4 separate regions of the Homo sapiens genome follow, and regions 1, 2 and 3 are each reported to be linked to region 4. The links are microRNA targets in miRTarBase. Many come from high-throughput screens and were not tested one by one. Region 4 holds a microRNA gene; each other region holds the end of a gene's coding sequence.

The links. The annotated mature microRNA hsa-miR-3688-3p reads UAUGGAAAGACUUUGCCACUCU and lies in region 4 at 2,178-2,199, opposite strand. An mRNA with a match to its seed (bases 2 to 7 or 8) in the 3' UTR can be bound and repressed. Matches are read on the target gene's strand: a 7mer-m8 pairs with bases 2 to 8, a 7mer-A1 pairs with bases 2 to 7 and ends in A, and an 8mer does both.
Region 1: the mRNA of SLC16A6 is a reported target of hsa-miR-3688-3p. Seed matches in the 3' UTR shown: 7mer-A1 at 2,546-2,552.
Region 2: miRTarBase lists JOSD1 as a target of hsa-miR-3688-3p. Seed matches in the 3' UTR shown: 7mer-m8 at 681-687.
Region 3: miRTarBase lists PRDX5 as a target of hsa-miR-3688-3p. The part of its 3' UTR that is shown has no 7-base or 8-base seed match.

What each region holds. Positions count from the first base shown.
Region 1 is chr17:68,266,310-68,269,435 of GRCh38, forward strand. SLC16A6 (solute carrier family 16 member 6) reads right to left here. Exons shown (of 6, transcript NM_004694.5): 6 at 717-3,037. The coding sequence ends at 2,787. It also overlaps a transcript of ARSG not described here. Among named protein-coding and RNA genes, the nearest start is that of AMZ2, 20 kb to the left of the region's middle.
Region 2 is chr22:38,685,082-38,688,207 of GRCh38, reverse strand. It overlaps JOSD1 (Josephin domain containing 1), which reads left to right. Exons shown (of 5, transcript NM_001360236.2): 5 at 207-2,665. The coding sequence ends at 306. It overlaps TOMM22 (translocase of outer mitochondrial membrane 22), which reads right to left. Exons shown (of 4, transcript NM_020243.5): 4 at 2,787-3,126. Among named protein-coding and RNA genes, the nearest start is that of TOMM22, 4.7 kb to the right of the region's middle.
Region 3 is chr11:64,321,367-64,324,492 of GRCh38, forward strand. PRDX5 (peroxiredoxin 5) reads left to right here. Exons shown (of 6, transcript NM_012094.5): 6 at 220-445. The coding sequence ends at 325. Among named protein-coding and RNA genes, the nearest start is that of PRDX5, 4.8 kb to the left of the region's middle.
Region 4 is chr4:159,127,934-159,131,059 of GRCh38, reverse strand. MIR3688-2 (microRNA 3688-2) reads right to left here and starts at 2,255; the gene lies at 2,169-2,255. All of the region lies in intron 1 of RAPGEF2 (Rap guanine nucleotide exchange factor 2), which reads right to left. It overlaps MIR3688-1 (microRNA 3688-1), which reads left to right and starts at 2,166; the gene lies at 2,166-2,258.

The DNA of each region.
Region 1 (3,126 bases), not on the chromosome of region 4:
TAAAATAGTTCGTATGAAACTCAACATAAAATAAAATCGTCCTGTTTTCAATGATCAAAGTATATATATGTATATATATGTATATATATACTTTTTTGTATAAAAAGTATATATATGTATATATATACTTTTTTTTGTATAAAAAGTATATATATGTATATATATACTTTTTTTTTGTATAAAAAGTATACAAAAAAAAAAAGACATAAAAAAGTTTAGGCTGCACATGATGGCTCACACCTGTAATCCCAGCACTTTGAGAGGCCGAAGCAGGTGGATCACCTGAGGTCAGGAGTTTGAAGCCAACCTGGCCAACATGGTGAAACCCAATCTCTAGTAAAAATACACAAAATTAGCCAGGCATGGTGGCGGGCACCTGTAATCCTAGCTACATGGGAGGGTGAGACAGGAGAATCACTTGAACCTGGGAGGCGGAGGTTGCAGTGAGCTGAGATTGTGCCATTGCACTCCAGCCTGGGCAACAAGAGCGAAACTCCATCTCAAAAAATAATAATAATAAATATAAGTAAATAAAAAGTTCAGTAGAAACTTCTTGGGAAACTTTATGTGTCTCTAGTAGAGTTAAAAGGTTTTGCAGAAGATAAACGTTAAAAAATTATTTATTTGGAGTGAATCTTTGGTGAGTTTTTATAACTTTAATTGCCTCAAACACTGAATGCTGTGAGAGTCAATAAAAAATCTTAGAAGAGAATCGGTCTCTTTAAATAAAAAATCCATAAATTTATTGCAAATCTAGAAGTACCAGAATGTCACTAATACAGAACAGATCAGCAATCTTGTTTGTATTTTCTTCCAAACATTTAAAACCTTGATTATTGACATACTGAAATTGGCATACATTTTGTTTTCATGCAGATAACAGAATAGACATGGAGCAGATCCCTCAGAAATCAGTTATAAATATTAAATTGTATTGAACATTCATAGTAAAAAATATGTCGTAAAGTGCTGAAGTCATGTAAGTCTGCAAAACTGCCACAAGCTCAAAGTTCTCAAGCAGTGACAGAGATTTGCTACATCCACCTTGTTTTAGATTATGCCTGTTTTTGACAGACACTTTGTCATTTCCTCCCCCACCCTCCCCAAAGTTTTATAGATTGTCCTATTTCTATGGCTGATAAGATGCTCTACAAAATGTAGCAGGTGGTGATGAACTATGCCACTTTCATTTCAGTGCAGAGAAATATTCAAGCTTGTGTGTACCTGTAACCAAACTAGGCTTGTTATGTTTTTCCCCCTGAGTTGTCATAAATTAACATTAACGATGAATAAAGATGGAGCAGCAAGCATTGACCATCACCTGCAGGGTGAGATTGTGGTAAAATAGGTGAGTAAAAAGTCCACCTATTATCCTGACACTTGCCCTCCTTACAGAAAACTGCTAACGTGAGCAATACTATACATGTAGTGTGACTCCAAAAAAAAAGGAAGAATAAAACAAACAAAACAAAACAATGACCAGTTACCCGATACCTCTGGCAACTTAGACCAATCAAGTCATGTGTTATAGAAGATGTAAATTGCAACTTGTAACTCGCTATAACATAATTGTCTCTGTTACCCCCATGTGAAATACAGAAATGCTTCAATAATTAGATGGTTTTTTCTTTAAATCAGAAATGCTTTAACAATTCTCTGAAATATAATTCTGATCAAAGAAGTTCCTCAAGTATTCTTAAATGATAAAACAAATTAGTTTTGAAAGCTAAGGCGATTTGCAATCCATTATTTTTTCCCCTTTAATAGCACACGTTGCCCCTAATCAAATGGAAGAATCATGACAACTTGGCCTTTTATGAAAGTATTTTTACAAGATAAGACGTATTCTGTGAGGCATTTAAAGGATTGCAGAAAGGAGGTAAAAATGCTGCTTATGTCTCAGATTTTATTTCTTTTGATTACTTTAATCATCCTAGAATAACTTAATAATAAATAGCGGTTTAAATTAAAGACACTACAGTCACATATTTCTGTATAACTAAAAGCAACAGGAAACACATTTTTAAATGCCATTTTGTATATTCTGTACTGAAACACTTCTGATAAGGACTGGCCATAAAAAGAAGTGGTAATCTTCACATTTATGAAGTTCAAGTTATATATATATATATATACTTAAAATTTGTTTATTAGTAAAATGTTTGGTCTTAAACTATATTTCATTTCCAGCAAGCAGAGGCCGTAATTTGTTAACGGGAACCTTGGTATTTTACAAAGGGTTTAACAAAAACTATTTATTCATATTTCTGAAAATTAGGAATTTTAAAAATGATTGAAGTCTTTTTTTTTTTGACTGGCCAATTTCATTTCAATGACCTGGGTTGGATGTTGTTTTATTCAGGAGAGTAGTTTATTCAGACAAGACCATAGGAAGAAAGAAAAGAAAAAAAGAAAATCATTTATCCCACGTGAAAGCTTTTAAAACCACTTTGCCAGTTCATGTCACTATTTTAATATCGGAATGTGAACCAAAGAGTCTTTCTACATATCTCTTGTATTGCTACTGAATACAGCCAGATTTATATATGGAAGAGTGCTTGGTTGTTTTTTGTTTTGGCTTTAAAAACAAGCAAAAAAAAAAAGCTTAAAACAAAACAAAACAAAACAAAAGCGATGTTGGTAGTGCTCTTCACATACACATTCCCTTTAAAATGTAGTTTTGAAAGTGGAGTAGAGGGGTTAGCTCCTCTGCCTCCTTGTGTCCCCGTTGGGCCCACCCCATCCCTCTCCAGCCAACACAGTGGCTGTTGTTGTAAGAAAGTGTGTCATACCGGCTCCATTTGCACGTGAACTCTGTGCTCATTTTTTGCAAGATCCATTTCCAGAAAGTCTTCAGGTATGTCCTGTAAAGTCTTCCCACGATGGCTCACTACCTTTGTTTCACCTGAGTGATGATGCTGGCACAGTCCCATCTTACACGGTCTCACCAGGGCGAGGCACACAGCAGCCAGGGCCATGCCAGCTGCGCAGGAGTAGAAGGCCCTGCTGTAGATCTTACTTTGGTCCACCAACAAACCTGGAAGAGAGCATGGCGTCCGTTAACAGCATCCTTCCTAGACATAAGCCCCTCACCCAGGCGACCATCCCATTCAGAAGCCTCTCAGT
Region 2 (3,126 bases), not on the chromosome of region 4:
AACTACAAGGATGAGCAAAATTCAGGTTGGAATTTTAACTGGACAGATTGGAGGGTAACCAAATGTGGAACCCTCCAAAACCAGATGACTACAGGGATGTGTTTTGGACTGCCGAGGGTAGAGTGAGGTTTCAGGTGACTTTGTGGTCCTGAGACTGGAATTTGCAACTTGCCAGCATTTCATTTTCTCTATCTCTTTTTCCATAGGAAGTTTCTAAAACATCATTTGCGAGGAAAGAACTGTGAACTCCTGCTGGTGGTACCAGAAGAGGTAGAGGCTCATCAGAGTTGGAGGACCGATGTGTAACAGTTCTGCCCAACCTCCCTCTCGCCTCAGCCCCTTCAGTCCTCTGTGACGTGCTGTGGCCTCTACAGTGGGTCTGCCCTTGCCACTTCCCCAAACATCTCATCAAGTTTTTCCCCTTCAGATCTGACAGTGCAATAGGACAGACGTGTGGACTGTTATAAGAACTACTCAGTGTTTTGTTCCTGGGCAAGGAAGGTAGGAGTTCTGTGCACTTAAGGCCAGTGGTCACAAACCCTTGTTTTATTTAAGAGACAGAGGAGAAAGTGGAGCGGGGAGGGAATCCTAGCTTATTTTCCCTTTTCTATGAGGACTTGACACAGGTTCTGCTGAGTTGTCACTGCTGCTCCAGACTCACCTAGAGATGCTGCCTCCACTTTCCATCCTGTCTGGGTCTGAAAACAGTGGGTCTGCAGATAGTGCCCACAAACCCCATGTGACTGGTTTGAAGGACCCAGAGCATAAAGGTCTCTCAGGAAACCATGTCCAAAACCCTAGCAGCGGTACAGCATGCTGTCTCCAACCCTTATCCCCAGGTTTAAGGGTGGTTTATGGCCATACGTGGAGGTTTTTTGTTGTTGTTTTTGAGACTGAGTTTCACTCTTGTTGCCCAGGCTGGAGTGCAATGGCACCATCTCGGCTCACTGCAACCTCCACCTCCTGGTTCAAGCGATTCTCAGGCCTCAGCTTCCCAAGTAGTTGGGATTACAGGCGCCTGCCACCACACCTGGCTAATTTTGTATTTTTAGTAGAGATGGGGTTTCTCCATGTTGGTCAGGCTGGTCTCAAACTCCCGACCTCAAGTGATCTGCCCGCCTTGGCCTCCCAAAGTGCTGGGATTACAGGCGTGAGCCACCGCACCCGGCAGAGTTTTATAATGAAAAATTAACTAATATTCTAGTATGAAGTGAGGAGGATACTGAACAGGATGTGGCTAAAGCCAACCTGGGACAGCCATGGGGTGGCTTGGTTTCTTCACTCCAGTGTTGTCCCTACCATTTCGCAGCATTGATTTAGGAGGCTCTGGGACAAAAGAGAAGCCAAAGAGCAGTTTTCCCAGTTCACTCACTCTGGCAAAATCAGGAAAAAAAAGTCTGCTTTTGACATCAAATTCCACTAATTTGGGGCAGCGTTGGGTGAGGAAAGTATTGTGAAGACAGGCTTCTTGGAGTAGGGGCAGCCACAATTCAGTAGACACTCTAGGCTCGGAGGCTGCCACTGTAGTTGCCAAGCTCAGGTTGGGTGGTTCTGTGCTGTATGGATGGAATAGGACCTGGGCTGGTCATCTTCATGTCGTTTCCTCTCTGTATCAATGGAAGTTCAACCCGCCCCTACCTCTTCAGATAGTTGTAGGCCACTTTTCTCTTGTAACTTTGGAAAACAAAAGAGGAGAAATAAGTATCATACCATATGCGTGTCTCCAAAGTGGATGTGGTTGCCTCAAGGCAGGTGGCAGGCAGGGGTGACCTGCTGGCCCTCAGATCAATGGTCGTGGCAGGTCTGAGAGCTGTCCCACTGGCCAGACTTCTCTCCAGCAGCAAAGCCAGCCTGGGGCTTGCATGTTGATCCTGAGCAAGCTTAACGGGGTGAAGCTGGGCTTTCTCCCCCCTGTGACTGGAGTGCATGTTGACACCAGCACTTTTTCTGCACATGTATCTTCAATCCAACAAGGCCGTTTTTTTAATGCTGAGTAACAGGCCACCAAGCGGCTACTGCGTTATATCTTCTCAGCAACTGGCCGCAGTCTCTTCTGCACCATTTTCTACACCAGACCTGCTTGGCACCACAGGGAGCTCTTTTCCTGCCCTGCACAATGACATTCCAACCACCACCAGCCAGACATTACAGCCAACCTTGCTGATTGTCACAAGCAGGACCTTGGGGCCACTGGCACTGTCAGATAGTAAGCCATTTCTTGGGTAGAGGAGGAAACTCCTCTCCACAAATCCACTTGGGCCTGTGCAAATGGCACTTGAAAGAGTCCCCATGCACTTGGAGTCCATGAGCCAATGGGATATGCAAAGACGCTTAAACATTTCAGGGCTGGTTTCTCTGTTCATATCCAATTCTGGTGCTTAGGAACAGGGACCCATGCTGATGCCCAAGGGCAAAAAGCCCCACTTCCTTTAAGGAAGTGAACAGGCCTGACCCTGATGCCCAATAACGGGCAACCCTAGGCTTTTTGTTTTTCTTGCTTTTATTCCTTTTTGTTGTTGGCCTTGTGCTGCGTTTGTTTACAAAAGATGTATTTTGTTTAACCAAATATTAAAAATGGAAAACTCCATATATGTCTCCTTGTCTGCCTGAATTCTATAATTGTGTAAAGAAAAATAAACTTTAGTATGACGCTGTTTTAAAAGGAGTTCATTGCCAGCGTAAGTCATCTTTTAGAGACATATCATTCTTTGATTAACTCTTTCACCTGAGAAATCCAGACAAAATAGTCACTGAAATGGGATTTGGTTCAAAAGATGTCTCTAAGACATTTTTCAGTCTATTTTAATTTATAAAAACTAATCTTGACAATTTGAAGAATCCACCTAAGTACAAGTTTGTACCACACTGGTGACTAGTGTTTTTCCCTAGTTAACAAGTGAAAGATCATGTATACCCAGCGGGCCTGGGCCCAGCCCCACCATCCCGAGCGCACAGCAGCAGTGTTCTGTAGCTGGACTGCCTGGATTTGAATCCAGGTCTAGCACTTAACTCTGCAGCCTTGAGCAATTACCTTTCTGTGGCTGTTTCCTCTTCTGTAAAATGGGAACAGTACCACCTAGATTGTAGTGTTGGTTGATCTGATAAACACACAAAAGGCTTACTCTG
Region 3 (3,126 bases), not on the chromosome of region 4:
CTCTGGGGAGAGAGTCCTGTGTGGGGGAGAGTTCTCTGTGGGGAGAGTCCTCTGTGTGGAGAGAGTCCTGTGTGGTGGTGAGTCCTCTGTGGGGGAGAGTCCTCTGTGGGGGGAGTCCTCTCTGGAGTTCTCTTGGGCCCCTGGCTGTTCACTGCCTGTCTCCATGCCCAGCCTCCAAGCCCAGGCTGATGCAGCTGGCTGGGCCCCTCTTTCCGGCAGGTTCTCCATGGTGGTACAGGATGGCATAGTGAAGGCCCTGAATGTGGAACCAGATGGCACAGGCCTCACCTGCAGCCTGGCACCCAATATCATCTCACAGCTCTGAGGCCCTGGGCCAGATTACTTCCTCCACCCCTCCCTATCTCACCTGCCCAGCCCTGTGCTGGGGCCCTGCAATTGGAATGTTGGCCAGATTTCTGCAATAAACACTTGTGGTTTGCGGCCATCTCCTTGGTTATGAATGGCTGTTTCGCTGAGCGCCAGGCATTCTGGCATCATCACAGACTGGGTGAGAATGGTGAGGGCGCAGATGGGCTGAAAGGGAGAATGTAGGGGGTCCTGCTTAATTAAGGGGGAGCTAGGGAGGGCCTTTCAAGGGAAGTTTTTTTTTTTTTTTTTTTTTGAGACAGTTTCACTCTGTCCCCTAGGCTGGAGTGCAGTGGCATGATCTCGGCTCACCACAACCTCTGCCTCCCAGGTTCAAGCGATTTTCCTGCCTCAGACTCCCCAGTAGATGGGATTACAGGTGTCTGCCACCACGCCCGACTAAGTTTTTGTATTTTTGGTAGAGACGGGGTTTCACCATGTTGGCCAGGCTGGTCTCGAACTCCTGACCTCAGGTGATCACCCGCCTCCACCCCCCAAAGTGCTGGGATTACAGGTGTGAGCCACTGTGCCCAGCCTTGAGGCAGGTGTTACTGAGCACTGAGAAGGAGCCAGCAATCTGAAGAGGAAGGGAAGAAGCGCTCCCCACAGAGGCAGCACAGAGGGCGAGGCCTGGCCGATGGCATGTGGCGCACAGTGTGGCCTTTGTACCTGCTCTCTGGGTGCTGCCTGATGCCATTTAGTCTGGAAACCCCATGGCGGGAAGCTTGGCTCCCAGCATTCCTGCCGGGGCCCAGCCCCACCATCCTTTCAGACTTGACCCCCTCCTGGGCACACCCTCATCCCAGGAAGAGCTCAGGTCACTTTAGGACCATCTGATGGACAGGGAGAGGGGCTCTGGCACAGCACTTGCTCATTCCAGGAGGGCTCCCTGGGGGAAGAGTCTAGGTGAGCTGTGGAGGGGAGAAGATGCTGGTGAGGCCTGACCAGTGGTGGCTGGGTGTGAGGGGCCTCAAGTGGGGACACCAGCAGGGTGTGGGGATGGGGGCCATTGCCACGGCAGGCCCTGCTCCTGGGCCTCTGCCCCTTGGTGCAGGGAAGCCACGCCTGTGATGGTGAGGCCCCACTGCGTGGAGTCTAGGGGGCCTCTGTGCCCTGCGCGATGCTGCCTGCCTGCCCACCCCAGGTGTGGTAACAGCCCTCACAAGAATTGGTGAGGTGTGGACTGCTGCTGCCTCTCAGCCACCTACAGGGAGTCCGCATTCCATCACCGCGTGGAGCTGCCCTGCCATGAACCACATCAATACCTGGCTCCCAGGCACTTCCTGCGTAGTGGTCCCCAGGGGTCAGCCCCCACTGCTGACTCAGGCAGGCCACACTCTTGAGAGGTCAGGGAGAAGGTCAAAGCAGGGCCTCATAGAGCAAATGACCCTTGAGGCAGTGGGAGTGGCGCCTCAAGTGGGAGGCGGAGGGAGGCCCATAGCCCTAGGGGTGAGCCCCATAGCCCTAGGGGTGGAGGGTGGGACAATCCCATGCTGCCGCAGCAAGGTGGGTAGCAGGAGTAGGGGGGGAATGTTGGGGACAAGAGAGGATGCCTGGAGGTCAGTGGGCTCTCTGAAGCTGATGAGCAGCTTGCCTTCCACCCTACAGGCACCTTGGCCATGGGCTACCGTGTGCAGCCCCCAAGCTGGGAGGCTGGGAGAGGCACCAGATGGGCAGCAGGGAGCAGGACCCATGATGACAGCAATGCCCAGGAGGTGGAGGTGGAGATGTGTTGGGAGGGAGGGTGCATCCAGGGAGCTGCTTGCTGAAGGTGGAGGGGCTGGGTGCTTGTGGTCACGTCTGTGAGAACAGACACTCAGTAGGAGGGGAGCCAGCCTCCCTGCCCAGGGTTGCAGGTGCTCAGCCTACCCGAGTCGTGCTGCCCACCAACCTCTGTCACTGTGGTTCTCTCCCACAACCTGCCACCCCTTCAGGGGTCCCAGGTGGGGGCAGGGAAGGAGGCTGACTGCACCTCGAGCTGCCCTGGTAAACTGCCTGCCTCTCCTCTCCTGCCAAACTCGGGGGTACAGTGTTGTCCTCATGGACACGCATAACACAAAGCCCCTTTCTTTCCCGGATACCACCTCTTTATCCTCTCATCATACAAATGAGAAAACAGACGTGGAGCTTCCTACAGGGCACCTGTGAGCTAATGAGTGTCTCCATTAGTAAATAGGGGGTGGTGGTAGCAAATAGCCCACCCCACTGGCTGTGCACCCCACGCTACCCAGGCAGCTCCCTGCTATCGGGGAAGCCCAGCTCCGTCTCTGTCACTCTGCTGCCTGTTTCCTCTGCTCCTGGGCTATTATCTGGGCTGGCTGAGGCCAAGCAAGGCCTCTAGAGGAAGTGTCCCCTCCAAGGTCTGTTGCCACTGGCTGGGCCTCTAGGAAGGGTTGAGAGGGCTTCCAGGGCTGGGGTGGCCCTCTAGGACAGCCTGGTGTGGGTGGCGGTGGGGCTGTGGCCTCAGTGGCCCTGACTGCTGAGCATGTGGCTGAGCTTGCTGGAGTGAGGACGTCCTTGGGTGGGGGCACGGAGGACTGGCCCTGGAAGCTGCTCCAGGCCCTGGAGGGCCCAAGATTAAACAGCACCTGGCAAGAGAACCTTGCATAGCTGTCTCCAGGTTGGACAGGTGGGGCTTCAGGCCTGGAGATAAGGGCAGACCAGGCCACGGTGTCCTGGACCAGAGAGCCCTGGACATCTGGGCTGCACCTGGCAGAGCTGTGCGTGTGGCCTTCCTGGGCTCTTGGTGGCCGAAAGACC
Region 4 (3,126 bases):
TATTTTCAAATAAACCTGGAGAGTAAAACATGCTATTTAAAAAGGTAAAGTTAAAATAATAATAGCTGGCTGGGTGTGGCTGCGCCTGTAATCCCAGCACTTTGGGCAGATTGCTTGAGCCCGAAAGCTTGAGACCAGCCTGGGCAACATGGTGAAACCCCGTCTCTACAAAAAATACAAAAATTAGCCAGACGTGGTGGTGCCCGCCTATGGTCCCAGCTACTTGGGAGGCTGTGGTGGGAGGACACCTGAGCCTGAGAGGCGGAGGGTGCAGTGAGCCGAGATTGTGCCACTGCACTCCAGCCTAGGCAACAGAGCAACATCCTGTCCCAAAAAATAAAATAAAATAAAACAATAATAGATAACTTTTATTTAGAGTAATTTATTCGCTAAGCCTGGGTCTAAATTAAAAGAAGCCCTTCCAGTCCTACTCTACTAACTCTAATTGTTTAAAAATTTTTAATTTTAATAAAATTAGACTTTAGATCCGAAATTCATCTCTAAAATAAAAATGACCTAGCAGAGAAATTTGAATAAAGAAAAATGTGCATGCCTGTAGTTCTAGCTACTTGGGGGGCTGAGGTGGGAGGATCACTTGAGCTCAAGAATTTAACACTGCAGTGAGCTATAATCACACCACTGCAATTCCACCTAGGTGACAGGGCAAGACCCTGTTGTCAGAGGCATTTGAACCAGAGCCAACTCCATCTTAAATAGGGGCTGGGTAAAATAAGGCTGAGACCTACTGGACTGCATTCCCAGGAGGTTAGACATTCTTGGTCACAGGATGAGATAAGAGGTCACCACAAGATACAGGTCAAAAAGACCCTGCTGATAAGACAAGGTAAAGAAGCAGACAAAACCCACCAAAACCAAGATGACAACAAAAGTGACCTCTGGTAGTGCTCACTGTTCATTATTCATTAATTATAATGCATTAGATTGCTAAAAGACACTCCCACTAGCGCCATGACAGTTTACAAATGCCATGGCAATGTCTGGAAGTTTCCCTGTATGGTCTAAAATAGGGAGGAACACCTCAGTTCTGGGGAAAATCCCCACCCCTTTCCAGGAAAACTCATAAATAATTCACCCCTTGTTTAGTATATAATCAAGAAATAACCATAAAAACAGCCAGCCACCAGTCCTCAGGGCTGCTCTATGGAGTAGCCGTTCTTTTATTCCCATACTTTCTTAATAAACTTGCTTTCACTTTATTCTATGAACTCACCCCAAATTCTTTCTTGCCCAAGATCCAAGAACCCTCTTTTCAGGGTCCGGATTGGGACCCCTTTCCAGTAACACTGTCTCGAAAAAGAGAAAAACATCCTAACTAAATTAGAACTTCATTTTGTAAAAGTCTTTATTAACAACAACATAGACATTTACACCTGCTCTTATTATAGGGGGAGTAGAGTGGATAGAATAGGGACTTTGAAATCAGTTATTTGTTCTTAAGCAAATTACTTAATCCCTGCATCTCAGTTTCTTCATTGGTAAATTGATAATAGTACCTCATGCTTTATAAGGTTGATGTTAGAACTGAATAAACCATAAGAAAACATCTAGGTGACTTTCTGGCACATAACACACACTTTATAAATGACAACTGCTTTTCTATGTCTTTCCTGAACTGTTCTGAGATATGTGCTCCCTAAACATAAAATAAAGAACTGACACCATAACTGTAAGCATTATGTATTATTACACTGACAGGCAACCTGAAACCATCAGTGTGGCACTTTCAAAAGGTCTATATTATCAAAGTAACTCTTAAGAGATAACTAGAGGCATAATATAAAGATTCATTAATATTGCACCTTTCAATGGTGAGCATTTATAATATGAAAGCAATTCTAATTGCTTTTCAAATTCTTCAAAAAGAAAGCGATAAGATTTCTATTCAAGATTCTTATTCTTATTACATTTCTATGCAAGTTTCTGCCTCCATGTCTAAGATCACATAGCAGCATTCAAATTTAAATACAGAATGATGACAGATTTCAATAATCAAAAGACTGCATCCATTCATATCATACAATTACAAATCTTTTCTTCTACAAATATGTATTCCAAAAAATATACTTAAAATAGATTTATATATATATATATATACACACACACACACACACACACACCCCCCATATGTATATATATACACACACTCTTCACTTTCAAGAGTGGCAAAGTCTTTCCATATGTATGTATGTATGTCTGTTACACATATGGAAAGACTTTGCCACTCTTTAAAGTGAAGAACTTTTGGTTCAGCTTCTTTATTTAAATAAAATGATCAAAACTATTTAAGATACATTGGTGTAAAAGAGTTTTTACACAATGGTTCTTTGAAGTCTGAAAATGTTTTGGCAAAGAGAAAGCTCTTTACAAAACTCAACATGAAGCCTGTACTTCTAAAATAATCCATATAAGTATTAACCTGCATAACCAAATAATAATTTGAAAACATGGTTTTACTGCTTTGTATTCACCAAAAAGAGGGGTGAATAAACTACTAGCCAAATGTTAAGAATATTAAGAAGATCTTAGCCTATTATCTTTATAAATGACTCACAATTTCTACTGACACTAATATTTTTATTATGTCAGCAATAGTAATACTTTACATTCATGTAGACTTTTCCATTGCGAAGTACTTTCTCATATATTAAACTTACGTAACCCTGAAAATAGGTATGGAAAGCATTGTGTTCCATTTTACAGGTGAGAAAACTAAGATCCAATGAAAATTTCCAGGGTCACGTGGAGAGTAACTGGATACAACATCAGTCCCTCTCTTCCAGCTAGTCTTCCTCAGTAGAATTAGGCCCCAAAATGTACTATTAGATTGACAGTAATGTAAAAGTTAAGACATTATTAGTCTCAGTATTTTTTCTTCTTGGATTTTACTAGATGAAATAGAACGTACAATTTAAAGTATCTCCTAACAAAAGAAAGGTTATAAGGTACATGTATAAAACAGGGAGTTCAAAATTCAAGGAAAGCAAACATATATATACATACCTAAATATAATCCAAGGCAATAAACTGCAGTCCAGGGCATAGAGATTCATAACACCATGCCTAGAATTCAGGACTTTGCTTCTGACTTGCTTCTGTAACTTACAC